Linked DNA regions of Homo sapiens. The protein of the gene in region 6 purifies or fractionates together with the protein of the main gene of each other region. This does not show direct contact. Each region holds a gene or a part of one and is shown on either strand. Other genes may lie near its edges.

Region 1 (5,431 bases), on a different chromosome or scaffold from region 6:
AGCCTCTCAACATGTATGTGCCAAGAACTAATACAAATCTCCTAAACTGTAACTTTAAAAGTGATCACTAAAAACACCCTAAAATCTAAATTACTCAAATTTTAGCCAAAGATATATGAAAATTTATTTTAAAATCATTGCACTAAAATAACAAATAAATAAAATGTAAGCTAGAATAACTAGTATAACTAGAATAACTCATGGAAATAAACAGTTCATCAGCAACCACATGGGGTATAGATAGATCCCTGGCCAGAATGCCAGTGGCCCTGGGTAGCAGTTCCAACTGAGTCCTCACTATTATGCTGGAGGCATGTACAACAAGGGTCTGGACTGATAATTGCTAAGGTCCCTGCCAGCAATAAATCACAGGCCTCTGAGAAACAGGAGCCTCTATATGCCAAAAATATTTTTTAACTATCAACAGATCTCTATTTGAAAAACTATTACTATAGCAAGATAAGAGGAAACATGCACTGCTGATGCTACAGACTGGAATACTGACTCTCCACCTATTACACCAAAACAGATTCGAGATGAGGCGGGGGGAGGTAAAATTTCATGACCCGCTCCATAGGAATACTCAGAACTAGGGACAAATTCTGGTTTTAGCTGTAATACCAGCCATATCCTCTCACAGGCAGGAAAACAGAAACAAAATACAAGTGAGAGAAAGTGACATTATCTTAAGAATACTTTTCACACTATTCCAATAAAAGGAAACCATTCCCAAGTTTTAAAAATATCAGTTTTAAAAAAAAGCTAATAACACACCAAACCAAACCAGTAACCCAGGTTCTCAGTAAACACTGTGCATGGCAGCTGCCTAATGCTGTCCGGAACATTTTAATCTATTTAAACAATACCTTAGCAATGGCATCCTGTAATCGATTGGCATCATTTCGGGTATGAGCCAGATCTTCCTGCAAGCTACTAGCCAAAGTCTCTGCTTTTTCTTTGTCCAGCCTGACACTCTCCAGGAGGTCCTGAATATCAGATTTGTCTCCAGAGTTATGGATAGAATACAGCTCTGCCACTTTCTGCTTTTCATTCTCCAGCTGAGCCTTCAGGCGATTCATCTCTATCTGGTCACTGGCCACTGTGGCTTTGTATTCCTCTAACGTGGCTGCCAAGGCTGCTTTTCCTTTCTGCTCAGACTCAATAATTCGCTCCATATGGTGACTGCGTTCTTTGAGTGCCCCTATCATTTCTTGAGCTTCCTTATTGTCTTGTTCTGCCATTTTCAAAGTATTGCTTAAATGCTGCTGGACACCAAGAAGCTGCTCCCGTTCAAAACGGGCATTCTCAGCGAGGTCCATGTAACGTTGCTCTAATTCCATATAGCGCCCACTTTTTACATCTTCATCTATGACATAAGAAATGTGATGCTCATCTAGAAGAGAGCGGAAGTATTCAATCTGTCGACTAAAGTGTTCCAACTTATCGCTCTGCTGACATAAAGACTCCATCAGAATAACCTTCTCTTCTCCAAGCCTTTCGTTTTCACTATTCAGTTCCTGGGTAATCTGCTGTAAATCAGCTAGCTCTTGCAGGGTTGCCTGGAGTTCCTCACTTGTACTGTGTTGGTTCTCTTCCATCTGGTGTATCCGTTCAGTCAGGCAAGCCACGGACACTTCACTGGCATTCCCGCTGCTCCCCTTCCGGGAGCGCTCTATGCTGGGGATGCCTTCCGACTCTGAGGAGGATGGTGCATCCAGCGCATCATCGCTCGATGTGAGGGGCTGGTAGACCTCACTGCACTCACTGTCTAAATTGTCCATGGAGTTACTGTGCTGATGGTCCATTAGTGTATTTTCATCCTGACTCAAGAGATCCTCCACTGAGCCAGGGGCAGAGCCTTCCACTGAAGAAGTCAGAGTTCCTCCTCCATCGCTCTGGTTACCAGGGGTGATTTCTGGGCTCAGGGACTGATAGCCAAACAGTTTTTCAGAATTGTCTAACCTCTGCTCTAGGGAAAAGCCCAATGCATTCAACCTGTCCTTTAACATTCTGTTTTCATTTTTCAGCTGGTTGAGTTCTTCACGGATGGCAGTATTCTGTTCCTGCAACTGCAATAAAGTGGACTCCACATCAGTCGGCTGGTGAGCCATAATAGTTTCCTTCTCAGATTTTTCATCACCCTCAGAATGATCCTCATTAATGCCCAGCTGGGCACGCATGTCTCGCAGTTCATTTCTCAAATGTAAAATTTCTACGTCTTTGGTTTTTGCCAGCGTGAGAAGATCCTTCACTTTGGCCTCCAAAGCAGCTCTGTCACTGATCTGATTGTCTGACTTAGACTTGCTCATACGAACGTCACATTCTGTAGCAGTTCGACTGCGGGAACGTTTGGCCAATGCCATGTCATTAGCTCCCTGACCTGCAGAAGGTAGTTTTTTGCTCTGGTTTAATCGGGTACGTTCACGTAATCTTTCTCTAGTAGAACTGGATTCTTTATTACCTGTAGAAGTGCTCCGCTTGGTTGAAGAAGCTGTGCCTATGTGTTTAATACAAAAAATGTAAGGCAAAAATGTCAGCAATAAAAGGCTACATAGAATACACAGTTCCTGCCCCAGGTGTAATGAGATGAAATCCAGGATCTACACAATGATTTAGATCTACAATAATCTTGCCTTAGAGTCTGTTAAAGTTCAATTTCTTCAAAACCAGAAGATCATTCATCTTTTAATTATCAAGGAGAAATAAGTTATACACTTTGTTTTACATGTTTTTAAAAGAGTAAATTTTATGGAATGTGAATTACATTTCTACAAAGCTGTTATTTAAATGATATACATTAACTTGAATCCAGAAGTGGGGTTTTAACCAGTTGGCCAGAGGCATAATATTCTAGGGCAAGACAGGTGAAGATGACTCCAGGATTAGCCAGTCGGTGGTAAACTAACTGTACACAGATAGTGAAGGGAGATCATAGGTGGGCAAGAAGGGAAAAGCAGTCTCTGGGAAAACCAAAAATCTAAGCTACCTACTAGAAACACAAAAATTTTACTCTGACCAAAGTAAATGCAAAATAGTTTTAACACCATAAAATGCCACATAAATAATAACAATTATAACAATAGCTAACACATACCTAGCACTTGGTTATACAAATACATTAACACTTCACATACATTAACTTATATAAGCCTCATTAAAGACGTGAGGTAGGTGCTATTATCACCTTGTTTTACAGATGAAGAAACTCAGACACAGATGTTAAATAATTTGCCAACATGTCACAGGTAATAAATAGATGAGCCAAAATTGAAACCCAGGCAGTCTGGTTCCAGATTTTGCACCTTAACCAGTATGTTATACTGTCTCTCTAAATGTAAAAAACAACGAAGCACTAATGTTAAATAATGATGATGCGTCAATCAAATCTACGTGAATCACATGATTACTTAACTACTAAAATTTTAAACCTGTGAAAACTGACACAATCATTTGTTTAATACAAAAAGAACAGGAAGTTTTTTTTGTTCGTTTTTTTGGTTTTTTTTGAGATGGAGTCTCTCTTGACCATCACCCAGGCTATAGTGCAGTGGAGCGATTTCGGCTCACTGCAACCTCTGACTCCCAGGTTCAAGCGATTCTCCTTCCTAGGCCTCCCAAGTAGCTGGGATTACAGGAGCGTGCCACCATGCCTGGCTAATTTTTTTGTATTTTTAGTAGAGATAGGGTTTCACCATGTTGGCCAGGCTGGTCTCAAACTCCTGACCTCAAATGATCTGCCCGCGTCGGTCTCCCAGCGTGCTGGGATTACAGGCGTGAGCCACTGAATTTACAGGCGTGAGCCACCGCACTTACAGGCGTGAGCCACCGCACCTGGCCAGGAATATGTTTAAATACCTGTAAATACTTAAGAAATAACAAATTTTTATGTTAAAAAATAAGATCCACATCTAATCAATAAGTATTTTTAAAGACCCTGCTGGTTCATTAGGTGGTGGGATCCAGGCTGTAGAGGTAACAGGGAGCAAATGATCTCCACAGATAGAGGGAGATAGCCACTAACAGAACAGGTATACAGGAGGATGCGGAATTCAGGCTGGCAAAAAGACAGACAACGAAAGGAAGCAGAAGTGAACATGGCACACAGAAAGGAAAAGTACAGTCACACAGTTAACGGAAGCTGCTGGGGAATGTTCATATAGAGTCCCAAAAGATAGGCAGAATTCAGTGAGTCACACTAAGTCAATAAATGATCCTGAGTAGGAAAGAAATGTAAGGAAAAGTACATTTTATGAAAATTAATCTAGAGGATACTGATATGGTTTGGCTGTGTCCCCACCCAAATCTCATCTTGAACTGTAGTTCCCATAATCCCTATGTGTTTCGGGAGGGACCTGTTGGGAGGTAATTTAATCATGGAAGCAGTTACCCTCACGCTGTTCTCGTGATAGTGAGTTCTCATGACAGCCGATGGTAAGGGGCTTCCCCTTTGCTTGGCTCTCATTCTCCTCCTTCCTGCCACTATGTGGAGAAGAATGTGCCTGCTACCCCTTCCACCATAATTCTAAGTTTCCAGAGGCCTCCCCATCTCTGTGGACCTGTGAGTAAATTAAACCTCTTTTCTTTATGAATTACTCAGTCTGGGGCAGTTCTTTACAGCAGCATGAGAATGGACTAATACAGATTCTAAGTGGAATACATAAGGAAGAAAGCAGAGCAGCAGAGGAGGAATGTGGGCAGGTAGATCAATGAGGTAAAAGAGGTCCCACATTCAGGGGCGGCAGTAAGAACAGAGAAGAGGCAAGAAATCTGTGACAGATATCAAAGGCAAGAGTAACCAGACTGGGATAAACAACTGTATACGGAGGCCAAAAATGGAAAAAGATGGCATAACTTTTTTTTTTTTTTTGAGGCTCTGTCACCCAGGCTAGAGTGCAGTTGTGCCATCACAGCTCACGGCAACTCTACCTCCCAGGCTCAGGTGATCCTCCCACCTCAGCCACCCGAGTAGCTAGGACTACAAGCACACGCCACCATACCCAGCTAATTTTTGTATTTTTTGTAGAGACGGGGTTTCACCACATTGGGCATGTTGCCCAAGCTGGTCTTGAACTCCTAGGCTCAAGTGATCTGCCCACCTTGGCCTCCTAAAGTGCTGGGATTACAGGCGTGCACCATCGCACCTGGCTGGGGTAACTTTTTTCCCCAACATTAATTCCTTTCCCTAGTTCTGCAAGTGGTACCACATCCTTATCTAAATCAAAAATCCTTATAAAAAAGAAAATCTGGCTCTCCCTCTCCCCTCTCCCCTCTTTCCACGGTCTCCCTCTGATGCCGAGCCGAAGCTGGACTGTACTGCTGCCATCTCGGCTCACTGCAACCTCCCTGCCTGATTCTCCTGCCTCAGCCTGCCGAGTGCCTGCGATTGCAGGCGCGCGCCGCCACGCCTGACTGGTTTTCGTATTTTTTGGGT
Region 2 (5,870 bases), 6.5 Mb from region 6:
GTTGTCCAGCCCTCCTCTTTTCAAATTACCTTTAAAGTAAGTTAACTTTAGGGCAGGTACAGTGGCTCATGTTTGTAATCCCAGCACTTTGGGAGGTGAAGGTGGGAGGATCGCTTGAGCCCAGGAGTTCGAGACCAGCCTGGCCAAAATTGTGAAACCCTGACTCTACTAAAAATACAAAAATAAGCCAAGCATGATGGTGCATGCCTGTAATCCCAGCTACTCAAGAGGCTGAGGCACAAGAATTGCTTGAACCGGGAGACGGAGGTCATAGTAAGCCAAGACTGCCCCACTGCATTCCAGCCTGGGTGACAGAACGAGCCTCTCTGTCTCAAAAAATAATAGTGATAATAAAATAGGTAAACTCTAGAGATAATAAACAACTTGAAAGCAACAATTTATAGTAGAAAATATTCTTTTAACTCCAATTCAGAAAGCTACTGACATTAGATAGACAAATTATCAAATCCTTCTGGGCCACAGTTTATTCATCTGAAAAATGAAGGGGTTCCATCAGTTTCTAATTCTATTCTATTAGAGCATAGTCTATTCTACTAGATCTATTCGTAACTTCTCTATGAGAAATGGGACTTCTTATTATTCACACTATATGGTCTATTCTAATTCTTACATCGCGAGAATCTAGAAATGAATTTCATGATAAAAATACTGGTTGCTTGCTTTAAAACTTAAGAGTAAAATATGGATCTCACTTGAACAAAAACTTGAAGTCCAAATACAACAACAAACTGAATAATAAGTATTTATTAACTATCTAATGTTGGGGCTCAGGACATACCTCCCCAGAATATGACTGAAGGAGACCAGAATATGTGACCCCAAAATATGCCTCCTTTGCACATTTTGAGAAAGTGTAGACATAGGAGTAGCTCTGAAAAGTTACCTTTTTAAAGATAAATTTGTGCCTATACAAGAAATCTCTGCTTATAAGGGCATCTCCCTCTCTGCAACAGGAGGAGATGACTAAGTAAAGAAGACATCGACTTACATCTTCATAACAAACTTCACCTTCATTTAAGGTGCTTTTCCTGGCCATCTCATCTTAACAGGGTTGTTCCCCACAACCTTTTTTACTTTGTTTCAGAGAATGATGGTATTTAAGCCCAAAATTTAAATGCTTTCTTTGAGATCTACTCTAGAGACTTGCTCATTTCTCTGGGGTTTTCCCGTGTATACATGAGGCATACATATTAATACACTTCTGTTTTTCTTCTGTTAATTTGTCTTTTGTTACAGGGAGCCTCAGATAAGAGTTATGAAGGACAGAGAAAATTATTACTTTTTCCTTCTCTACACTACCTTGTTTTTCTTGGTGTTTTTTTTTGTTTTGTTTTGTTTTCTTTTTTTTTTTGAGATGGAGTCTTACTCTGTCACCCAGGCTGGAGTGCAGTGACACAATCTCAGCTCACTGCAACCTCCACCTCCTGGGTTCAAGTGATTCTCCTGCCTCAGCCTCCCAAGGAGCTGGGACTACAGGTGTGCATCACCATGCCCAGCTAATTTTTGTATTTTTTAGTAGAGTCAGGGTTTCACCATATTGGACAGGCTGGTCTCGAACTCCTGACTTCATGATCTGCCCGTCTCGGCCTCCCAAAGTGCTGAGATTACAGGCATGAGCCACAGCGCCCAGCCTTTTCTTGTTTTTTTTTTTTTTTTTTTTTTTTTTGAGACGGGGTCTTGCTCTGTTGCCCAGGCTGAAGTACAGTGGCATGAACATGGCTCACTGCAGCCTTGACCTCATGGGCTCAAGTGATCCTTCTGCCTCAGCCTCTTGGGTAGCTGGGACCACAGGCACGCACCACCATGCCCAGCTAATTTTTTAATTTTTTATAAAGTTGGGATCTTGCCATGTTGCCCAGCCTGGTCTCAAACTGCTGGACTCAAGCAATCCTCCTGCCTCAGCCTCCCAAAGTGATGGGATTATAGGTGTGAACCACTGCACCTGGCCCACTATCCCGTTAAACAAACAAACAAACTTTAATTGAGAGGCCATTAGGCTGAGGCAATGACAGAGCTCTAGAAGGTCCCACATAAGCAAACTAAAGTCCAATGTAAACAGTAAAACCATACTAGACTTTATCAATCAGAAACTGCCAACTATTCCCTAACTCGGAACTTTCCACTCTAACCAATTTAAATGTCTTTTGTCTTACTTTCATGTTCAGCCTATAAAAGCTCACTGCCCTTGCTGCTAGAATGGGGCTCACTAACCTCCAATGGTTCTGAGTGCTGCGTAATTCATGAGTCATTCTTTGCTCAAACAAACTCCTTGTTTTTTTTGTTTTTTTTCTGAGACAAGGTCTCTCACTCACATCGCCCAGGCTGGAATGCAGGGGCATCATCACAGCTCACTGCAGCCTCAACTTCCCAGGTTCAGGTGATTCTCTCACCTCAGCCTCCCAAGTAGCTGGGACGACAGGCATGCAGCACCATGCCCGGCTACTTCTTTGTAGAGACGGCATTTTGCCATGTTGCCCAGGCTGGTCTTGAACTCCTGGGCTCAAATGATCTGTCCACCTTGGTCTCCCAAAGTGCTGGGATTCCAGATGTGAGCCACTGTGCCTGCTCCAACTCTTTAATATTTTAATATCCCTAGGTTTATCTCTTAATGATCCTAATTCTTTCCCCCATCTTAGACCCCAAAGTGTGTGGCCCCAGGCCTGGATCATATTTAGTTGCTCAGTTATTTCTTATAGTCAGGAAAATCAGAATTTCCTTGTGCTTTTGATTTCAGTAGCTCAGCCAGCTTCACCAGCAAGCACATCCACATATCTGGATTCTCAGACCACTGGGCACTGAAACAGAGCAGTTAATCCCCATACCCATGCTGAGGAAATAACACGCATCACATCTTTTAAAATATCATATACACAATGGATCATTTGAGTAAATTTAATACTAGGATCATTTGAGTAATTTTAATACTGCTCTATAGACAATTCAGTGGTACCCTAAACACAATTAATTTCTACATAGATATTATTAACTTTTCAGCTAGTATTAGTAAAATTAATAAAATTAGGTACGTGATTTAATTATTTTATCTGAATAATGTTTTGTTTTTTGTTTTAGACACTATTATTAGAACACTAGGCTGTGACATGTCATTAAATAACAATTAAAAAATCAACACATACAGCAAATTATTTTTTGTAGTGGTTACTCACCTGAGCGCTCTTACCACATTTAGCATCTCCTGAAACAATCACGATTTGATTTTGAAGCAGGTTCTCCATAAAGGAGTATTTTTCTTTCCATATAGGAAGATCTTCTCTTTCTTTCAGAAGTTTATAATAACGTGATGAATATGGCAATCCATCAAAGGGGTTAAGTTCCAAATCCTCACAGGCCAAAACCTCTTCCTCATCCCCATCGCTGGAATCCAGGGATTCAGGAAAATAGCGTTTTTCAGAGGAAGAGTTTGGACACTCCAGCCCTTCTTCTTCCATCTTGTCTGACAGTGAGCTCACGCAGCTGACATTCCACAAGCAAGTTTCTCCTATCAGTAACCCATTGCAAACAGGGCTTAAAAGCCTATTTATACAAACCCGTATGTTCCAATCTCTAAGACTTCAGTTCAAGGTTTTAGCAAGTTAAATTCCTCAAACCTGCATCTGTTCTCCGTTGCTGTGTTACCCACTGTGCTGGCTCACTACAGCACTCTTCGGCATTGTAAATGATTGTCAATAAACCACACTAAGAAACAAACAAACAAAAAGAGTAAGGAAAATTAGGAACACATATAAGTTAAAAAGAAAATGCACAGGAGTTCAAATGAAAAGCATTATTTTTTTTTTTTCTGTTAACGGGTTTCTGTCATTTCTGCTGCCTGCTTAAAAGAACAGGAATAATTTAGGCTGGTGTTTAAAGTTTGGTGGGTTCCGGTATTTCCTGGCTGGTTCAGAAAATGATTCTGCACTGGGCCTCGTGCTCTCTGCCTGACCTCTATCTCAGGCTCTGCGTCTTGATCAACTGTGAATGGAAAGCAACAGGAGGGACAGGATTGTGATTGTGAGGCTAATCAATCACGTGGTCACCTAATCCCATGTCAAAAGAGGAGCTGGACCCTATAAAAGGAAAGAACTGTGATGACCTGGTGAGTGTTCCTCTAACACAGGCTACAGGAAAATCTATTATTAAGAAATCCTTTACTTTAATGAAAAACATTTTTAAAACTTTTCATTTTCCTTTTGCTTATGTCAGTTTAGAAAGCCAAGTGAGGGGAATGAATTTATTATTTCCTTCCATATGTAGTTATGGTTGGCTTTTATTTTATATATATATAAAAAAGACAGGGTCTCGCTCTGTCACCCAGGCTGGATGCAGTGGCGTGATCATGGCTCACTGCAGCCTCAACCTCCCAGGCTGTTTTCCCCCTGCCTCAGCCTCCTGAGTAGCTGGGACTACAGGTGTACACCACTATGTCCAGCTAATTTCTGTATTTTTTTGTAGAGACGGAGTTTTGCCTTGTTGCCCAGGCTAGTTTCGAACTCCTGGGCTCAAGTGGTCTGTCCTCCTTGGCCTCCCAAAGTGCTGGGATTTCAAATGTGAGCCACCATGCCCAGCTGGCTGGCTTTTATTAATAAGGTCTTTTGTTTAATTAAACCAGAAATCTCTAGCATATTTCTTGAGATTCCTGGGTCTTGAGCCCAACATGTCAGCTCCAAGAGGCCATTAAGGACAACTTTTAATTTAAATGAAGAAGAGAAATCACCCAAGAAAGAGCAAGATTTATACCAATAACTCAGTCCCCACATGTCAGGTGAAGGGTCTTTCCCCTTCCAATTACTAGTGATTAAAAAGAAAAATTCCATTAGTGTTGCTGGAAATAAGCTCCTTTTCACATTAACCAGATAAAAATGAAAAAGAAAACTCAAGTTAAAAAGAATAATAAAATACAGTTCATGATATTTTGTAAGTTACTGCACTTTTCGGATCACCTGGTTTACCTTAATTATTGCTTTAGATGGTTGGAGCCAGTGTGCTCAACAGCTAGTTCCTAATTAGTAAGTGATAAGAAAAGCTCTCTCTCTATTGGTCAAGACAGGCTCCAGGGCAACAGTCAATCACTCAAAAAACATTTGCTGAGTGTCTTCTAAGGGCTTATTAGATGAGTAAACTAGGCACTAGATACACACATAAAGGATATTTTGAAGATGGCAGCAAGAGCAGGATAGAAAGTTTTAAAATTCACAGATGAACAAGCTAGTTTAGAGGTAAGTAACCAGAGAGGCAGAAGAACTTCATAGCTCTTCCCAAGTAAAGTTCTTAAAAATTCATCTAAAAGCCAGTGTTTCAAAATTAAAATGGAATTACAAAGGCATAATAGAAATGTTGTAATATGGATTCACTTCAGAACTCTTCACTGCCTCTATAAGGTGAGAGTAGACCCACAGAATAGCTCCAGGAAGCATGGTAGCTTGAGATCATCGCACAAGCTAATTCTGGGAAGGTATCCAAGAATCAGAAAATTCCACTCTTCAGAGAAGTTAAAATTTAATTTTATATTCTATTTTTCTTTTGTTCTGATTAGAATCCCTTCCAAGGGTTCTCAGCCTACATGTAAATTAAATTGCTATTAAATATTATAACCAATGATTGCCTTAGGTAGTATTTCTTAACTGTTTTACCTTAAAAAAAGAACAGCTATTATTTTTACCAAAAAGAAATGTTTCTCTTATTTATAATACTCCCTAAGAGTGTAATAATCTTATAATTACAGTAAATTCTTACTTATAAAGCACTGACCACTTTGAACCCTGAGGAAATAATCAAGTTTTCTGAATAGTCTTCTTTCTAAAGACCTGAGACTTACCTGGCCCCTTCATCACACATTGTGCAATGTATCC
Region 3 (5,431 bases), on a different chromosome or scaffold from region 6:
AGACATCCTACAATGTCACTTGGTCTCAAGGGACAACTCCACCTCTTATGTCTCCAAGAAAATGAAAGCCACCAGAAGTTAAGTCCATCCATTTCCTGCCACCGTACAAGATAAACTTAGCTGTCCTTGCTTCCACGCAGTGCAAGAGGCATCCCTCATCCTCCAGCTTTCCTATCCAAGTGGGCTGAGTTCATTACCATCCGAGCAACCCTGCTCCACCACTGAGATCCTCCCTCTCAGACACTACATTTCCTTCTTTCTACTGCCACATTTCCACCAGCATTTAATTTCCTTGAGTCTCTCCCATCTTACACCACAACCTACCTCCCTTTTCTGTTACCTCTTTCCCCCTTCCTTGTCATAGATAAAGTTCATTAAAAAGCTTTGCCTCCTTTTTTTTTTTTTTTTTAAATAGAGACAGGGTTTCACCATGTTGCCCAGGCTGTTCTCAAACTCCTGGGCTCAAGCAATCCACCACCTGCCTTGGTCTCCCAAAATGTTGGGATTATAAGCATGAACCACCGTGCCCAGCCATTTTTGTTTCTTATTTACTTCTCAGTGACTGTACTTTGGCTCCATACTCAATAAACCACTGAAGTCTACTTAACTTGTTCTTATCAAGGTCATGAACTACATGGCTAGATACTATGTTGGCCTAACTACCTTACTTTACTACAGTACTGGACATTGTTGACTACTCTGTCCTTTTGAAACAACTTTTATCTTAGCTTTCATCATACTTCACTGCCATAGTCTTCCTATGCATTTTTTTTTTGTTTCCTTTGCAAGGTCCCCTTCTTCTAACCTGCCCTGTCTCTTAAACATGGGTGATCTGCAGGGTTCTATTCTTCATCTTGTCTTCTCACATTACAGACAACCATTGCAATGGCTGCACTTACCATTACTGCTAACTGTTACCCTATCAGTATCTGTAGCATGTGCATCTCTCCCCTAATCCAATGTCTACAGGCTAGCTCCAAATAGACATCCCACAGGCACCTCAAATTCAAAATATCCCCAAATTAAACTCATCTTTCCCCCCAAACCCAGCTCCTTTTTCTACATTCTTCTCATCTTCTACATTCTTATCTCAGTATCACACTATCCACCCAATTGCACAAATCAGAAAAATGACCCCACTTCAACCTCCTCCCAAATAAGTCACCCAGACTATTGACCAAACTTCCTCAGTATCTATTCAATCTGCCCCTTTTCTCATCCCATGTTGATTACCTTAATTTGGATTACTATCATCTCTCTAAAATGACTCCTCTGCACCATAACTGGTATAAATATGGATCTTGTCATTTTTGTGTTAATGTTCTTTCAGTGACACGTCACTGCTGCCAGTTCAAAAAGCAATCTCCTTACCATTTTTATCATCTAATGTCTGCCAGTTTCTTCTGCGACTACCTCTCATGTTAGCAGGAATCAGATTCAATAGCTATTAAGAAGTATTCATCCTTCCCCTTAAATTCTATTTTCCAGCAGCACAAAACTCTCTAGGCATTTTTTTTTTTTTTGAGATGGGGTCTGGCTATGTTGCCCAGGTTGGTCTTGAACTCCTGGGCTCAAGTAATGCTCCCACCTCAGCCTCCTGAGTAGCTGGGATTACAGGCATGTGCCACTGTGCTTGGCTCTCCATCCCCGATGAAGTCTCTCCATCCTCACTGAAGATTAAGTTATAGAACACCCTTACCCCTTGCTCTTTTCCTTTCCTTTCCAAAGTACTATTTATTACCCCAATTGTAATTTTATCTCGCCAACATGCTCTAAACCATCCTGAGGATTGAGACTGTAAGTGGTTCTTCCTTGTATCTCTAGTACCCAGCACAGTTTGTGGCACAGGAGTTCACTTAGTATTAGCTGAAATGAATTTTTAATAACTTTGCATTTTAGATCTCTATGAAGCCTTGGCATCCAGTCTAACACTCTCATTTCTCAGAAGAAGATACTATAGGCCCAGATGTGCTATCTTTCCAAAATCACAGATCTAAACCAGGTGTAGTGGTGTGCACCTGCAGTGTCAGCTACTCGGGAGGCAGAGGTGGAAGGATCGCTTGACCCCAAGAGTTGGAGATAAGCGTGTACAACATAGTCTCAAAAAACGAAACAACAAAAATCATAGGGCTTGTTTAGTAGAAGAGCAGCATCCAGACCATTTGATTCTTGGTCAAGGTGTTATCAGTGCGGTGCCTGTGATGAGTGCAATGATCAGTGTGATGAGTCCTTTGAGAGGACTTGGGAGCAGTGGGATGAAAACTGAGAACAGCTTATAAACTTATTAATTCCATGCCAGGACCTGACCTCTTAGTTATACAGGAAGAAGGTTAAGATATAACAGGGACAGTGAGAACAGGGGCCAGAAGACAGATTTAGTCTCAAAGTCAACAGTGGATCATTTACGCTGGTCCTGGGCAGCTGAAGAGGGAAGCAGGAGAAGGTTGCAACAGATCCTGAGAGCAACAAAGAATGACAGAGACCCAAAAGTGAAACGCCCGTGACTGAGAGAGGAAGGTAGTGACCCTAATTAAGAGTTTCAGGTAAATTACAGAATTCCAAAATGTGGGAATAGCAATTGTTTACCCAGGACTGAGTTTTTCTATTTTTTAAAAATTTGTGTAACTTTAAAAGCAATAGTTTAAGTGACTACTAGGCAGAGCTCATGTACTAGGGTACAGATTTCAACACTGTGTTGAAATACGGTAAATCTATCCTAATGTACAATATACAGTCACGCATTGCATAACAGCATTTCGGTAAACAACGAACTGCATATACGACAGCGACAATGCCCTCATAAGACTATAATGGAACTGAAAAATACTGCCTAGTGACACTGTAGCTGTATCATAGCTCACATCTGTGTAAACAAACCTATTCTGCTGCCAGTAATAGAAAGATGTAGCATGTACAATTATAAGTAGTACATAATACCTGATAATGATAAATGACTATGTTACTGGTTTATGTATTTACTATACTATTCTTTTCATCATTATTTTACAAAGTACTTCTACTTAAATAAAAAAGTTAACTGTAAAACAGCCTCAGACAGGTCTTCAGGGGTATTCCAGAAGAAGGCATTGTTACCAGAGGAAATGACAGCTCCATGCTTGTTACTCCCCCTGAAGACCTTCCAGTGAGACAGGATGCAGAGGTGAAGGACAGTGATATTGATGATCCCAATCTCGTGGAGGCCTAGGCTAATGTGTGTGCCTGTGATTTAAGCTAACAAAAGGTTAAAAATAAAAAATAAAAATCTAAATACAAAAAAACATATAGAATAAGGATATAAAGAAAATATTTTTGTATAGCTGTACAATGTTTAAGCTACGTGTCATTAGAAAAGGGTCAAGATGTTAAAAGTAGTTATAAAGTTACAGTAAGCAAAGGTTTGAAGAAAGAAAATTATTGAATAAAGTCTATAGTAGCATATAGTAATGTCCTAGGCCTTCATATTCACTCACCACCCATTCACACCCAGAGCAACTCCCAGTCCTGCAAGCCCCATTCATGGAAACTGCTCTATACAAGTGTACTTTTTTTTTTTTTTTTTGGAGACGGAGTTTCGTTCTTGTTGCCCAAGCTGGAGTGCAATGGCGTGATCTCAGCTCACCGCAAGCTCCACCTCCCAGGTTCAAGCAATTCTCCTGCCTCAGCCTCCTGAGTAGCTGGGATTACAGGCATATGCCACCATGCCCAGCTAATTTTGTATTTTTAGTAGAGACGGGGTTTCTCCATGTTGGTCAGGCTGGTCTCCAACTTCCGACCTCAGATGATCCGCCGCCTCAGCCTCCCAAAGTGCTGGGATTATAGGCATGAGCCACCGCGCCCAGCCAAGTTGTACCTTTTCTAGATTTAGATATGTTTAGATAACAAATACTTACTATTGTGTTACAGTTGTCTACAGTATTCAGTACAGTAAAATGCTGTACAGGTTTGTAACCTAGGAGCAATCGGCTATACCATATAGCCTAGGTGTGCAGTCAGCTATACCATCATGGTTTGTGTAAGTACACACACTCCATAATGTTCACACAATGACAAAATCACCTGGTGACACATTTCTCATAATGTATCCCTACTGTTAAATGATACATGACTGTACTAAGTACAATTTAGGAATATGAATCAGGAAAAGCACCTCTGTGTTTTAAGTGTTAAATGAAATTGTTTTGGGAGTCATTTTTGTGAAATCAGTCTGGAGCCCTTTTCCCTGGTGCTGTTGTCCACATCGGAATACTTCGAGTTAGAAAGGCCTTATCTACAAAAATATGTGTACGTACAAATGTACCCAAAGAAGAGATGGGCTGGGCCACTAGGAGTAACTCAGAACTGGCTTGCCAAGGGTGGCGCAACCTTTGCTATAATCAAGCAGGTGGGAAACCAGGAGACTATGGCTGCAGGTGTTAGCTCCAGCGCCTAGTAATACCTCCCTCCTTTCATTTTCTGTGTCTCTAACCCCTTAGCTCTATTCCGAATTTAAGTCTCCCATGAATGCACCTGACTGGAATCTAAGTCTCATTGGAAATGAGTCTAGAAAGTGTATTTTAGTTTTTTAGTCTTTGCTCTTCTAAGGGAAGATACAGTGAGAGGACTGTGGAACAGACAGTGCAGAGCCAGCTGATTGACTGCATCATCCAAAAGGCATGCCATGTGCCAAGGGTGTGTGCTCACGGGAGAGTGGTCCTCAGGGGATACAGCTTTCTGGAGAAGTGGTATCTACACTGAAAGTGAACCAGGTGATTTTATTGAAAAGTATTACCCCAAGTGAGAGGCTCATTAACGCTCTGCAAAGAAATCACAGTGAGCAGCAGAATGCCATCTACCTGCAGAAGAACCAGACTAATCTGGAGAGGAAATTCGCCTACCAGCTGAGCCAGGGCATCATCAGATGAAAAAGGTGAAAGAGCAGTATGAAGAACCAATAGAAGAAATCACTGAAATAGAAAATTAAGCTGTAGGTCATAGACCTTACTGAAGAAAAGGAAAAACAAAATCCAAAACAAAGCCAATAGCTGAGGCTTCATCCAGGCTTAGCCCAGGCTGTAGGAAGCAGGCCTGCCACAAACGCCCTGAGGGAAAGGAAATGAGCAACCCAAATACCAGACCCTAGTTCTGAGATAGCTTTGGATTTGAAAAGACAGGACAAGAGAAAACCAGTGAGACTCAAGGTGTCAGCTAGAAGCCTCCGAGGAATATCCTGAAGCGGCCTCAAAAGCCAGGATGAGAGCAAAGACAAAACTGTGTGAGGAAGAGGTGTTGGGGAAGGGGAAGGGGAAGGACTTGCCCAAACCCTGAAAGTGTCAGCTACTCTACTGGCGAGCCAGGAAAATTCAGAGGCTGAGGACCCTGAGTGGGACCAGCCTGTCATCAGTGAGGGTGAGGAAGAGCAGGATGTCGAAGAAGAAAGCCCAGGGATGACTAC
Region 4 (3,500 bases), about 64 Mb from region 6:
TTCATTACTGATCCTAGGAAAATTTCAAATATTTACTGTCCAGAAACATCAAAGAAACAATTAAAAAAAAAAACCCTCTCAAATAATATTTTACCTGCATCTGTAAGACTGCATCGGTCTGTAACAGAGTAGTTTTTGCTTGGGCATCAAATACAAATGGATATGTACAGATTGTAACAGGGATATCTGCCAACTGGAAATAAAAAATTAACTTATTAGTACAAGTTGATTTGTGATATACTTACTGTGGATGCTGACATTTCTTATAAAGTGGACTACATTCTTTGTTTATTCACTCATGTGGTTCTGGAATTACAAATAAAACATGCTGCTTACAGAATTATTAAAAATTAAATGAGGCATTGGAATGAACCCAATTCCCAATTTTAGGGGGCGACTGTATACTTGAGAGTCTATACAATCATATACTGCAAGTATCTTTTGCTTAGCATATGTTAATTGCAAATCTCAGTGAATGAGGTTGCAAATTTGTTCTAAAATTGGGGGCTCCTATGTTAAATGCGATAGCCAATTCTTACATGTTAGGGCAACTGCAGCAACTGAGGCTAATGATAAGTAATCTGTCTATTCCTTCATTTAACAGATATTGAGTATAATGTCATTAGGGTATCAAAATTATTATGAGTCCAATAATCTCTTCATTTACTTAATATACAAAAAAGTACCATTAGTATTACTATTCTGTTAGCCTTTAAAGTTACGAGAACTGATCTATTATTATCATTATTAGACATTAGACACTTTATAGACAATTACTTATCCTGGCAGGTAATATATTGATTGCTAAGTATTTTAATAGTGCAGTAAAATATAAAGAGTTATGAATTGCCAGTCACACATTCTTGTAGTTGGAGGACGACCTACTTCTACCATCTACCCAGTAAAACAATATCTTTGTGCCTGCCCTGACTCAGAGCCCCTGCTATGAGACTTCTAATGAAGAATTAATACACCCTAAAACAATCCACTTCTTAGTGATTAGACAGTTCTTTATAGTCTGAATCTGCATTTTTTTTTCCCCCATACAGAGTCTTGCACTGATGCCGGGGCTGGAGTGCAATGGTGCGATCTAGGCTCACGGCAACCTTCGCCTCTGGGGTTCAAGCGATTCTCCTGCCTCAGCCTCCCGAGTAGCTGGGATTACAGGTGCCTGTCACCACACCCGGCTAATTTTTTGTATTTTTAGTAGAGATGGGGTTTCACTAGGTTGGCCAGGCTAGTCTTGAACTCCTGACCTCATGATCCGCCCACCTCGGCCTCCCAAAGTGCTGGGATTACAGGCGTGAGCCACTGTGCCCAGCCTGAATCTGCATTTCTATATATCACTATGCATCATTTAGTCTTTGCTTTGCCCCTGCTGGGAAGTGTACGTAGTTTAAATATTTTAAGTCCTAATCATGCTCTCCCTAAATTGTATTTTATTACATTCTAAACATTCACTCTTCAGTATTTTTCATGTGACAAGGTTTACCTCCATCCTATATTTGTGGCACTGCCTAGCTAATGATCATAAAAACTAATTTTACTTCTCTGAAATTCAAAAAGATTTAGATATCTCCAAAGCACCCTTTGGCTTCAAAACTCTATGTTTTCATAATTTTATGTGCTAATTCTATTTGACAATGAGGAAGCAAACAATATTAGAGCTATAATTTAAAGCTAACTCAAAATGCTTCATTGGTTCAAGTGCTGGGAAAAACATAGCAACCAACAAAATGCAAATCAAAGCAAAACCTGACATCTATAACGGATAAAGAAAGTATTATAATGTTCCCAAGTGTTAAAAGGGTAGTCTAGGGTTGTTGATTACTTAAACCAAAGTGCTAGAACTTTATATATTAGAAGTGAGAAAGATAATCATACAAAAAGTTTAACTTTGTGACCATTCTGAGTATCAATTAATCAATTTTAAAAATGAAGTTTGTTTTACTTCTCTAATATAAAATGTTTTCAGCCACATTAGGTAGGCATTTGCTAAATTTTAAAATAAAAGTTTGCTTTTTTATATTCTGAGGACACATTACATTTTATACTGGAAGACTTGAGGAGGACAGAAACTATTCTAAAGCAAATATTGTTGAGGCATCATATAGGTGTAATGTTAACAGAATTTCATTTTCTTCAGAAAACTTCTGAAATGTTATACAAGATAATCTCTACAGACTGTATTTTAAAAAATGATACATATATATCTATTTATTTACATTTTTTAACCACACCAAAAAAACGAATCTTTGGCTCTTCTATTACTCAGGAGAAAATGGAGTATATTTTACTCTAAACATGAGCTTTATTACACCAAACTTACCTCAGTTAATCCATGGTTGACATCCTAAGACAGCAGTGCAGAATATAACAATAACGAGGAAAGAGCAATATTAGTGTCCAAATTTAACTATTTCTATTCAAGGTAGCATTTCATATATTTTGCTACAGCAGAATATTGAAGTAATGAGGTAGAAAATACATCTACAATCAAATACACCCCCTACACAAGCATCTTATATATCTACTAATGTAAGATCTTTGTTTCAGGTACCTTGTGATCATAAAATGATTGAGGCTTGAACATAATGAAATTTGTTTTCAGCAATTAAACACCCCCATTTGCAGAATTTAGGCAGAATAAGAAAACTAATCCTATGCCTGGCTTGGTCTTAAAAAAAAAAATTTATGGCTCAGTTTTTCTACTTAAAAAAAATGGAAAAAACATTCCTCAGACTTTAAGACTTTAAAATCTCAGCAAAATGTCTGACAGTGTTTAGTAGATTAAAATGCCATATGGACACAAAGTAAGAAAAAATAAGCCATAAATTGTTTTTATTTGACAGAAAAAAAAACAGTAAAACATAAGGTATCTTACATTAAGCATTCTTTAAAACTGAATTAATTTAAAATAGAAAGTACAGGACAGGGAAAAAGGGTTGGTAAGCAAAAAGAAATGAAGAGAGAAAGATATATTTATTAAGGCAGTAATAGTGGAAATTATAATGAAAGCTTACCACTTTATTGAACAGAAATGTACATTTTCTTGTAGAAAGTTTCCACATATGCTCAGAGCACAGACTCGTGTAAAGCACCAGAATCTTCAGAAATATGTTACTAAATTTGTGGACGGTGCCTTGTGTTGTGAGGAATTAATTTTACCCCAGAAGAGAGGGCATTGCCCTGGGTTACTAGGAGGTGACCTATAGACCTGTGCAATATCATGCCTGATAGGAGTGTCTTTGTTTGCCTGGCGCTTTAGCCACTGGACAATGTGACTTATGATAGGGGCTTGGGCCATGTGCTGTCAGTTCTGCTTCCAGAAGAGCTGGGAACTAGAGGTCACTACGGGAGCAGGATGTGATTGAACCCCAGTAAAAACTCTGGGCACCAGGGTTCTGGTGAGCTTCTTTGGCTAGAAATACTCTGTATTGTTACACATCTATGCCAGGAAAGTAATTCATCCATGACTCTACATGGAAAGGACAACAGAA
Region 5 (5,431 bases), on a different chromosome or scaffold from region 6:
AGGCCAAGGCGAGAGAATCGCTTGAGGCTGGGAGTTCAAGATCAGCCTGGGCAACATAGTGAGACTCCATCTCTACAAAACATTAAACAATTGGCCAGGCACGATGGCATGCACCTGTGTAGTCCCAGCTACTTGGGAGGCTGAGCTGGGAGGATCACTTGAGCCCAGGAAGTTGAGGCTATAATGAGCTGTGTTTGCACTACACTCCAGCATGGGTAACAGACCGAGACCCTGTCTCTAAAAAGTAAAACAAAATTTTAAAATGAGCAAAGGAATTGAATAGACATTTCTCCAAAGAAGACAGACAAATGGCCAATAGGCATATGAAAAGATGCAACATCACTAATCATTAGGGACATGGAAATCAAAACCACAATGAGATCCCACCTCACACCCATTAGACTGGCTAGCGTCAAGCAGCTGCTGTGGAAAACAGTCTGGCGGTTCATCCAAAATTAAACGTTGAGTCGGGCGTGGTGGCTTATGCCTATAATCCCAGCACTTTGGGAGGCCGAGGCCAAAGGATCACTTGAGTTCAGGAGTTCAAGACCAGCCAGGGCAACATAGTGAGACCCCAGTGCTACTGAAAAATTTTAAAATTAGCTGGGCGTAGGCTGGGCACAGTGGCTCACGTCTGTAATCCCAGTACTTTGGGAGGCCGAGGCGGGCAGATCACGAGGCCAGGAGTTCGAGACCGGCCTGACCAGCATGGTGAAACCCCATCTCTACTAAAAATACAAAAATTAGCTGGGCATGGTTGCGCATGCCTGTAATCTCAGCTACTTGGGAGGCTGAGGTAGGAGAATCGCTTGACCCCGGGAGGTAGAGGTTGCAGTGAGCTCAGATCGCACCACTGCACTCCAGCCTGGTGACAGAGCAAGACTCCATCTCAAAAAAAAATTAGCTGGCCGTTATGGTGCGTGTCTGTGGTCCCACCTGTTCGGGAGGTTGAGGTGGGAGGGTTGCTTGAACCCAGGAGGTCGAGGCTGCAGTGAGCCATGTTTGCGCCACTGCACTCCAGCCTGGATGACAGAGTGAGACTCTGTCTCAGAAAAAAAACAAAGAACAGCACAGCAGGCCAGAGACCCTCCTCTCAGCAAGGCCTGCTTAAAATGTGAGCCTTTGGCTGGTCTCTGGGAATTTGGATCTTAGGCAGAGGGTTCCCACCATTCCCTGTCTGAGAGGGGCTCCCTGTGCCTGGACTGGACCACACACCTGATTTCTCCTTTTTGGGGAGTCTAGAGTGTGGGTGCCAGGCAGAAGATGCCTATGTAATGGCCCAATAGGAAACCTGGGCATGCTGTGTCTAATGAGCTTCCATGAGGGACACACTGTTACAACTTGCTACTGGAGAAATGAAGCCTGTGGTGTGCAGCCCCACTGGGAGAGGATTCTGGAAGCTTCTGCCTGGTTTCCTTTGGACTTCACCCTATGTGCCTTTTCTCTTTGCTGATTTTGCTCTGCTATGAGTGCAACCATAGGCCGGGTCCTCCTAACCAATCAGTTACATAAAATACGCTATTTAAATTTTCAACTGTTTCATTTTACTTATTGTGGCTTCTAGAAACCCACAGTTGGCATACGTGCTCACCTGTCCAGGCACCTCAGAATGGCAAGTGCTTCAACACTGAGGTCAGTTTCCATTTCACAGGAGAAACTGAGCCCCGGAGAGGTGGGCACGGCTGAGGTCACGAAGTAATTACGAACAGGAGGACTTGGCTGGGTGCAGTGGCTCATGCCTGTAATCCCAGCACTTTGGGAGGCCAAGGTGGGCAGATCACCTGAGGTCCGGAGTTCGAGACCAGCCTGGCCAACATGGTGAAACCCCAACTCTACTAAAAATACAAAAATTAGCCAGGCGTGGTGGCAGGCACCTGTAATCCCACCTACTCGGGAGGCTGAGACAGGAGAATTGTTTGAACCCGGGAGTCAGAGGTTGCAGTCAGCCAAGATCGTGCCATTGCATTCTTGCCTGGGCAACAAGAACGAAATTCTGTCTCAAAAAAAAAAAAAAGAACAGAACTGGCAGGGCACCGTGGCTCACGCCAGTCATCCCAACACTTTGGGAGGCTGAGGTGGGCACACAGCTTGAGGCCAGGAGTTTGAAATCAGCCCAGGCAACATAGTAAGACCCTATCTCTACCAAAAACTTTAAAATTAGGCAGGGGTAGTGGCGGTGCCAGTAGTCCCAGCTACTGGAGAGGCTGAGGTGGGAGGGTGGCTTGAGCCCCATTGTTCAAGGCTGCAATGAGCTGTGACCACACCACTGCACTCCAGCTCAGAGACAGAGTGAGACCATCTCTTTTAAAAAAACTGAAAATGTAAAAACAGGGGGACGAGCTATGCTCTCCAGCCTAAGCAGCTGCTAACCCAGCCCAGGGCCCCAGCTCCAGTACTCACCCGACGGGCCTCGAGTGGCAGTCTTGGGGGTTGAGGACTTTCTGGACAGGGGTGCCCGGCCTCCCTTCTCACTGGGCTCACTCCGGGCACTGAGTGGTCGGCTGGCACGGTCCCCACCAGCAAGCCCCTTGGTTTTGGCAGCAGCCACTGGAGTGGCTTTGGGGGCGGCAGCGCGTGAGTTGGGGCGGGCCAGGGGCTTCCGGGTGCGGCTGACGTTCTCCGTTTGCCGTGCTGTCTTGGGGGGCAGCATCTCGGGGTCCACCATGCAGATGCTGGATGGGTCAGGCAGTGGTGGGGGGACCTTGAGGGGGTCAGGCAAAGGGTCGTGGCGAGGGACTCCAAAGCCCTCTGTGTCTTCGTCTGAGTCTGCCGCACCGGGGGCCAGGGGCACGGGATCCGAGTCAGACAGGGTGGGCAGGGACTCGCTGACCGATGTGGGTGGCGTCTCCTCGGCCCCCAGCCCACCTGCCCGTTCCTGTGACCGGGCACTGCTGTCATTCGAGCTGCCGGGGGACGCAGGTGCCGGTGCCATTGGCACCGCCTTGCGATGCTCAAATTCACAGGGTGACACCAGGCACAGGTCCACATCGTGTGGGGAAGCCGAGCGCCGCGCCCGGGGGCCACGCAGCGGGAGGCTCAGCCCAGCCTCACTGGTGGGGGCGGATGGCGGCAGCACCTGCTCAAAGGACACCGACAGGGACTCGTCCACCTCGGTCGAGTGCGGGGAGCCCACCTCTGCGGGTAGTGAGGGCGTGGTCACCGTGGGTGTGGTCACTGTGGGTGAGGCGTCTGGCCCGGCCTCCCCGCCCCGCAGTGGGCTCAGCGACAGCCGCTCGCTGCCCTCTGCGGGGCTCCGGTGGGACTCAGGGGAGGGTGTGCGTGGCCTTGGGATTGAGCTGGCGGCCAAAGGCAGCTCCAGTGCCTTCTCCTCCCCGGCTGGGATCGGCCCCAGCTCCAGGCTGGGCGTGGCCACCAGCTGGGAGGCCGGAGAGCCGCAGGCTGCACTGGGGGGGCTGGCTTCTCCACATCGGAGGCTGGGCGGGCTGCGGGGTCCATTTGCCACCGGCGGGAAGCCAGAGTGGGACGTGCTGGGCGCTTTGCGGGGCTTGGGTGCCGCCTGGGCATTCGTCTTCTTGAGGTTGGGCACAGAAGAGGCTGCCCGGCGCACCTCCCGCGGCTGGGTCCGGGAGACACTCGGTTTGGGGTCTTTCTTCAACTCCCGGGGGGTCTTGGCTTCTTTCTCAGTCTTGCGTGGGGCCTCAGCCCGTGCTGGCTCCTTGCGGGCCACCCCAGGGCGCTCCTGGCCAGGTCTAGGGTGGGTGGCCAGGAGGCCCTCTCTCTTCGAGCTGTCCCGGGAGCCCACGCTCTCTTTGCTCTCGGCTCGCCCCGGCCCCTCCAGGTCCTGGGGCGTCACCACGGGCTCTCGCAGGAACCTCAAGTGCTGCAGGCGGACCAGGCCGTCCAGGAGGCAGGCGGGCGGGGTGCAACCGGGGAACAGCACGCGCACCACCTTCTCGCCGGGGCCGGCGGGGTGCCACACCAGCAGGGCGCACACAGAGGCCAGCGTGCGCTCGGCGCCGGCGGAGGGCGGGTGCAGCACATACATGTCCAGCCGGCCCACGCCCATCTTCTCGAAGAGCACGGTGGGTTTGGCTGGCACGGGGCCGCGGCTGAGTGGCAGAGGCGTGATGCCCAGCTGCGCCAGGAGGCTCAGCGCCAGCTCCGCCTCATCCTCGCCGCGCGCCAGCCGCGACGCGGCCTCGCAGGCGTTGAAGAACACGACCCCCAGGTTGGGGGAGATGAGCCTGCGCAGCCTGTCGTCCCAGGAGCCCCCACCAGCAGCCACCTCGGAGCGCTCCGCCAGTTTGCGCCGCAGCAGGCTGTTGAGGCCGGGGAGGCTGTCGGCGCCAGGGTGGGTCACCAGCACGGCATCCACGCGGTCCAGGTGCCGCACCAGCTTCCAGAAACTGGACTTGGGGTTTGAGCCACCGTTGACCAGCACAGTGAAGCCATTGACGGCGAAGAAGGCGGCATCCCCGAGGCCTCCAGGGAAGATGTAGCAGCAGGGCCGGCCCAGCCTGAGGAAGCCCCCGGAGGTCGGGGGCTCCAGCAGCTCGAAGGGGGACGGTGGCTCCAGAGACTCAGCCACGTACTCCAGGAATTCGCACAGGCCCTCAGAGTTGGGCAGCTGCGCCGGGGGGTTCAGCCGCAGCTGGAGCCGGAGCGCCCCCTGAAGGCCAGGCACAGCGGGTGCCAGCTGAGCCCAGTCACCGAAGGTGGGGCAGGTGATGGTGAGTATGGGCGGCTGCACAGGTGGGGGCGTGGTGGCCAGGATGTCCCGGATCTGTATGGAGGAGGAGTGGTAAGGGACCACCTAGAGCCAGGCAACACCTAGCCCGGTGGGAAAACTGGGCGAGGACACCCTCATCCTTTCCCCCAGGGCCTGCTCCTCAGGGCCCTCCCGCCAAAACCCAACCCTCTCCAGCGCCACAAGGCTCTTTGATCTGGCCTCACCTCCTGTCTCTCCCTCCCCTTCAAATGCCTCCCTGCCCCAGGGCCTTTACACTCACCATTCTCTCCTCCCAGGGCACAGCTCCCTCCAAGGAGACTCTCCACGCCCCACCTGTCTACTGAACCTTTTCTCACCATTTTTAAGTGCCCCACTACAATGTGAAAGTGAGGTTTGCCATTTTGCCCATGTGTCCTACCCAGACTGCGGGCACCAGGAAGGACCCATTTGGCTCCATCCCTCATCAGGACTTTGGGACATCTGCTGACCTACAAACTCAGCTCACACCACACCCTTTCGCGGGCAATGGGACTGACCCCAGACAGCCAGGAGGCATGTGTCACCACTGCCATCCTACAGAGGATGGGGAGACCAGGCCATGGAAAACAGCAGGTCGCTGGTGCCACACAGCCTGATACACCCCAGTCAGGATTCAGAGCTGGGGAAGCAGGGGATGGCAAAGGGGTGGCTTACCTCTCTGTCCTTCAGGACCTGGAGGAAGTGGTGAGGCGAGAAGCCCCC
Region 6 (5,431 bases):
TGATGCAGGCCCCACTGGGAGCACCTGACCCTCCCACGCAGGCCCCACCGAGCACACCTGACTCTCACGCAGGCCCCACTGGGTGCACCTGACCTTCCCATGCAGGCCCCACTGGACATGCGTGACCTTCCCACACAAGCCCCACAGGACACATGTGACCTTCCCACACAAGCCCCACTGAGCACGCCTGACCTTCCTACACAGGCCCCATGAGACACGCCTGACCTTCCCACAGAGGCCCCACCAGACACACCTGACCTTCCCACACGGGCCCCACCGGACACGCGTGACCTTCCCACACAGGCCCCACTGAGCACGCCTGACCCTCTCACACAGGCCCCACCGGGCGCGCCTGACCTTCCCACATAGGCCTTACCACTTTGGAGGGACTTTTTGCATGTGTACACAGGGCAATCTTGCCACATTTAATCAACATTTCTGCTTCCCCTCAGATCACTTAGAATCTTTGTTTCTAAGTAATGTTTAGCCCATTATGCCTGCTTTTCTTGTTTGGTGATGCTTTTGTTGACTTTCTCAAAACACGACCTCAGAGAGGCACTCCAGGCACTTTGGGAGCCACTGGGACCTATTGGCCAGTCTTCTCCCAGCACGTGCCCAGCACGACCTGAAGGCTGAGTGAGACCCCAGGTGGCCGTCGCAGTGGACACAGGCGCATGGACATCACGCCCCTGGCTGCCACATGCTCCTGACTGCTGCGTGCTCAGGGTCTTAGGTTTGAAAGGAAAAGTTTTAAAAAATGGGCAAACATGCTTCAAAACGTCCTAAGAAGTTGTAAAATTCCCCCTGGGGTACAAGTGACTAGAAACATGCATATTTGACCAATCTGCCTGTGGACAACTGATTTAGGGCCAGGGACAAAACTGAAATTCATGAAAATGAAAGCAAACAGGAAGAGTGGGATACAGCAAAAAGACTTTTATTTATTTATTTATTTTTTTAAGACGGAATCTCGCTCTGTCATCCAGGCTGGAGTGCAGTGACACCATCTTGGCTCCGCCTCCCGGGTTCACACCATTCTCCTGCCTCAGCCTCCCAAGTAGCTGGGACTACAGGTGCCCACGACCACGCCCAACTAATTTTTTGTATTTTTAGTAGAGACAGGGTTTCACCATGTTAGCCAGGATGGTCTCAATCTCCTGACCTCGTGATCCGCCCGCCTCGGCCTCCCAAAGTGCTGGGATCACAGGCGTGAGCCACCACGCCCGCCAGCAAAGACTTTTTAAAGTAATTGAAAGGACAAAGTACTAAAAATATACATAGTAGCTGAAAAATCACTCTATGTGGCCCTAAAACCTAATAGAAAAGAGTCAGAAAATACTTATTTTTGACCAGTTACTTAATGTATTTTTTTCAAACTTACAGAAAAGTTGCAATAACACCGCTGAGAAGTTGATGGACCCCGCACCCCATCAGCAGCCGCTGGTGCCTGGCCCCCGAGGCTGCTGCCCCCATGAGCCTACCCGCCCTCGCCTCTCTGTCTGGGGTGCTCATGCATTTCCTAAAACACTCAAGGGTAACTTCAGACATCCTGCCCCTCCACCCTCAGATGGAGATGCTCACACATCGCCATAGCGATTCACCAAAACCAGGAGCGTCCCATCGCTGACTTCTGTCATTTACTGGCTGGCCTTCCTCACACCTTGATAACTGTCCCAGTAATGTCCTTTATCATATTTGTCCTGGCCCAGGATCCAATCCAGGATGAAGCATCACATCCAGTTTCCTATTCCTTTAGTCTCCTTCAACTGGAATGAACCTTCAACTTCTCCTCTTTTTTATCCTGATCCTCCAGCAGGGTCTGTCCGTGTCTCCTGTGCTCCCTGTGTCCTGGCTCCGGCTGTGCCTGACGGTTCTGCCCCTCCATCCTTGTCCCAGCTGTCTCCAGGTCCTGGTCCTATCTCTCCTCGGCCACCCCATGCCCTCAGCTACCTGCCCCCACTCCTGCCAGGTGCCCAGTGCCCTCCACACTGCCAGTCCAGCGGCTACTTTTCTTTTCCTATTTTTATCACAACATCCTGGCAGCATCGGGGTCAAGGGTGCCACAGCCAGGCGGCTTCAGCGCAATGCCCCAATGCAGCCACTATAACCTGGTTAAAATATGTCTACAAACAACTCAGCAAGCACAGGGCCAACAGCTGACTCTTAATCATTTAAAACAATTTCCAAATAGAGTCCATCTGGGTCAAAAGTGCAAGGCCACACGTTATTTACGAAGACCTAACCCACACATTTCAATTGCAGCACATCTATAATCACCTTGGCTAATGTTCCAAACATGCATTTTTCTTAAGTATCAAAGTACATCACAAATAGTAAAATTTTAAATATTCTGACAATATTTCAGAATATGTACTTTTTTTGGCAAGGCTTCATTATGATTCTCCTTTATCCCAATTTAACTTTACCTTTTCCAAGTGTAACTACAATGCGTACTCAAGACCAGAACACATCATGAGCATCTGAAAATACCTGGCTGGTCAGTATGTTGAAAGAATGGAACAGGTTAGTGAGCACCCACCAACAAGGTGATTAGATAAAACATGTCTACAGGGCCATTTTCCTGCTAATTTCTTGTACCTCGTTAGGAATAAGGAATATTTCATTGTACTTATTTTAAAATAGCTGCCTAATGCAGCATCAAGTCATTCCTGAAGCAGCCGCCTGCGGGTGGCTTGGAGGTGATAACTGTTTCATTTGATTGATCACAATAAACTTCTACCAAAATCCACTTGAGCCAGGATCTATAATGTGCCCAGATTTATAGAACCAAGGAAAAGTCACAGAGATGACTGGGTCGGCCTGAGATCAGTGTACACTGTGTCAACTCAGCAGAGGACCCATGGCTCCTGTATTTCTCAGGATGTTATTAAAGAGAAGACAGGTTCTGCCCTGATTTTAAAAAGCTGTAACTTCAACGTTAATGTGATTTGTCATAAATCACCTCCTACAAACCTTGAGAAGTTGGATTTCTGGGGAGAGAGTGTTCTACTGCCCACATCCGCAGGAAGCGCTGGATAGCCACCAATCCCTTCTGCACAACGAGCTGAGGAGGGAATTCCAGAGGGCAGTGTCTTAGGTTCAGTGCTTTCAGCGTGGTTACGCTCCCTGCAGTGGAGGAAAAAAAAACTGTCAGCATTCTATATACCATTCTTGAAATGAAAATGAGGAATAAATAATAGTAACTTTTCACATTTTAAAATATGATTCTATTCAGTATTTGGGGGAAAATCACGTTAACAGATGTCAAAGATTTGCTTTAAAGGTAACTCTGCAGGAGACGGATTCCGCAAATTAAGACCAGGATGGTTTCCAAAAAACAAATAAATAAAATCAAACAAACAGAAGCAGCCACAACCACCTTCACAATTCTGTAAAATTCAGAATACAAAGTCGCTATATTATCTAAAATGCCCATTTTCCACATAAAAACTACCAGACATGCAAAGAAAAGGAAAATGTACCCTACACTCAGGAACGGAGCAGACAATGGAAACTGTCTTGGAGGAGGCCCAGATGTTGGGTTTAACAAAGACTTCAAAGCAACCATTTAAATATGTTCAAGCAAATGAAGAAAATTGTGTTTAATTAGAAGAAAATAGAATACAAGGACTCCACAAATGTGAAATGTCACTAAAAATGGAAATTATGTGAACTTGGAGGCTTTGGAAACGATGGCCGCTGAGAGGTAAGGCTCCCGTGGTGGGCAGTGGGCTGGTGGGGGCTGGCTCACTCCCCAGGCTCAGGGCGAAGTCCCCGGAATGAGGAGCACGGGGAAGCACTGCAGGGGCCCTAGTCCTGTGGCGTTTCCCAATCTGAGGGAGCCAGGGTTCAGTGTGAAAGATGGATGCTTGGATTTTGGGTATTTGGGTGTCCCACCTTTCAGCCGCGCTCGCTTTTCACATGTAGGTTAAGTATTAGGCTCTACAAACTGCAAATGCCTTGTTGGCCCTGTCCATTAATGGGCTCTGCCCTGAGCTCACTGGTCCAGTTGGAAAACAGAGACTAAACTAGAAGCTACCTATCTAAATGAAATTCGTTTCCTTATCAAATCCTGTGGCAAGTGACTCTGTATTATCTTGTCATCCATTTTTAGTCTTCAAACACACCCAAACTCCTTCTTTAAAAAGCTTAAATTCTCTCTCTGTTCTTTGAAGTGTAAATTTGCTATTCTGTTTTCTCTAAAACTGTGTAAGGGTTCCAGCCATAACTCGTTCCATTTACAAAGGCACAATTTAACCTAACTGTTCTTTTATTTTTGTTTTTTGTTGTTGTTGTTGTTTTGTTTTTAGAGAGAGGGTCTCGCCCTGTTGTCCAGGTTGGAGTATAGTGGTGCAATCAGAGCTCACTGCAGCCTTGAAGTCCTGGGCTCAAGTTAGCCTCCTGCCTCAGCCTCCTAAGTACCTAGGAACACAGGCATGCACTACTGCACCTGGCTAATTTTATTTTATTTTATTTTTTGTAGAGATGGGGTCTCACTATGTTACCCAGGCTGGTTTCAAACTCCTGGCTTCAGGGGATCCTCCTGCCTTGGCGCCCCAAGGTGCTAAGATTACAGGCATGAGCCACTATGCGTGGTCTCAACTGTTCTTTTAAACTAATGAGTTTTATCTGATTCATGGCTAAAAATAAAATCAAAGCTATACAATCTTAATGTTTGTACTTTTATGTATACATGCGTATACATGTCTGTTTTTATACTGTCTACATGGTAGCAAGTGACTTACAAATAAATGAGTACTCATAAATTAGTTCTCCAAAATGCTTCTCAAGTTCATAATAGAAATGCCTTCAGAATTTTAGACATTTTTTCCTGGGCTACTAGTCCGACAAATTTATACTGTTTCTGCTAGATATTTTAAAGGTCATAAAACTTGCTTCTGTGATAGTTTACGCTTGTTTGATTTGTCTGTCAGTTTATGCTTTTGGTTTTGAGTGTTTAGATTCTGAAGTCTAAAAAAGTGGTCATGATGGGGCCTAGGAACATACGTAAGTGGTAAAACTTCCCAGGAAGGCCAGCGAGATGCAGCGGAGACAGCACGCAGGGCCTGCAGAGGTGTGTGCGGGGCCTTCAGTTTCCTTAGCTGTGTGACGGCGCCAATGGCCCTCACTGTGACTGTGCCTCACACAAGGCTCACACGTCACACCTCCATAAGAACAGTACGTGCTATATCAACAGTTCTTGAGAGCTACATTATCTTGGTCCTAGAAGTAGGAAGGATTTTTAAAATATCTAGCTTACCCTCCTTTGTCATGCCTGATACTTCCATTACAAGGTCTGGCAAGTTCAAAAGATAGCATTTTAAAATCATCTTTTTATTATTTTATACTTACCCAGCTCCACAGGTAACATTTTGATAGGATTTCTTTCTAAAAGCAAAGTTTTCAAATGCCTTTAAAGCAAAACAAAACA

The links.
Region 1: the proteins of LRRC27 (region 6) and SPECC1L purify together in Homo sapiens (affinity purification with mass spectrometry; one large-scale study listed by BioGRID and IntAct). This does not show direct contact.
Region 2: the proteins of LRRC27 (region 6) and DHX32 purify together in Homo sapiens (affinity purification with mass spectrometry; one large-scale study listed by BioGRID and IntAct). This does not show direct contact.
Region 3: the proteins of LRRC27 (region 6) and FERMT2 purify together in Homo sapiens (co-immunoprecipitation; one large-scale study listed by IntAct). This does not show direct contact.
Region 4: the proteins of LRRC27 (region 6) and HERC4 purify together in Homo sapiens (co-immunoprecipitation; one large-scale study listed by IntAct). This does not show direct contact.
Region 5: the proteins of LRRC27 (region 6) and MAP1S purify together in Homo sapiens (affinity purification with mass spectrometry; one large-scale study listed by BioGRID and IntAct). This does not show direct contact.

The regions. Positions count from the first base shown.
Region 1 is NC_000022.11:24,318,354-24,323,784, reverse strand, and holds part of SPECC1L (cytospin-A), read right to left. Parts: intron 2,498-5,431; coding exon 867-2,497; intron 1-866. UniProt on the Homo sapiens protein: Involved in cytokinesis and spindle organization. May play a role in actin cytoskeleton organization and microtubule stabilization and hence required for proper cell adhesion and migration.
Region 2 is NC_000010.11:125,877,355-125,883,224, forward strand, and holds the start of DHX32 (putative pre-mRNA-splicing factor ATP-dependent RNA helicase DHX32), read right to left. Parts: upstream 3,939-5,870; 5' UTR 3,471-3,938; coding exon 3,189-3,470; intron 1-3,188.
Region 3 is NC_000014.9:52,866,707-52,872,137, forward strand, and holds part of FERMT2 (fermitin family homolog 2), read right to left. Parts: intron 1-5,431. UniProt on the Homo sapiens protein: Scaffolding protein that enhances integrin activation mediated by TLN1 and/or TLN2, but activates integrins only weakly by itself. Binds to membranes enriched in phosphoinositides.
Region 4 is NC_000010.11:67,956,784-67,960,283, forward strand, and holds part of HERC4 (probable E3 ubiquitin-protein ligase HERC4), read right to left. Parts: intron 2,354-3,500; coding exon of another isoform or gene 2,330-2,353; intron 194-2,329; coding exon 95-193; intron 1-94. UniProt on the Homo sapiens protein: Probable E3 ubiquitin-protein ligase involved in either protein trafficking or in the distribution of cellular structures. Required for spermatozoon maturation and fertility, and for the removal of the cytoplasmic droplet of the spermatozoon.
Region 5 is NC_000019.10:17,725,142-17,730,572, reverse strand, and holds part of MAP1S (microtubule-associated protein 1S), read right to left. Parts: coding exon 5,384-5,431; intron 4,745-5,383; coding exon 2,401-4,744; intron 1-2,400. UniProt on the Homo sapiens protein: Microtubule-associated protein that mediates aggregation of mitochondria resulting in cell death and genomic destruction (MAGD). Plays a role in anchoring the microtubule organizing center to the centrosomes. Binds to DNA. Plays a role in apoptosis.
Region 6 is NC_000010.11:132,342,193-132,347,623, reverse strand, and holds part of LRRC27 (leucine-rich repeat-containing protein 27), read right to left. Parts: intron 5,412-5,431; coding exon 5,353-5,411; intron 3,127-5,352; coding exon 2,974-3,126; intron 1-2,973.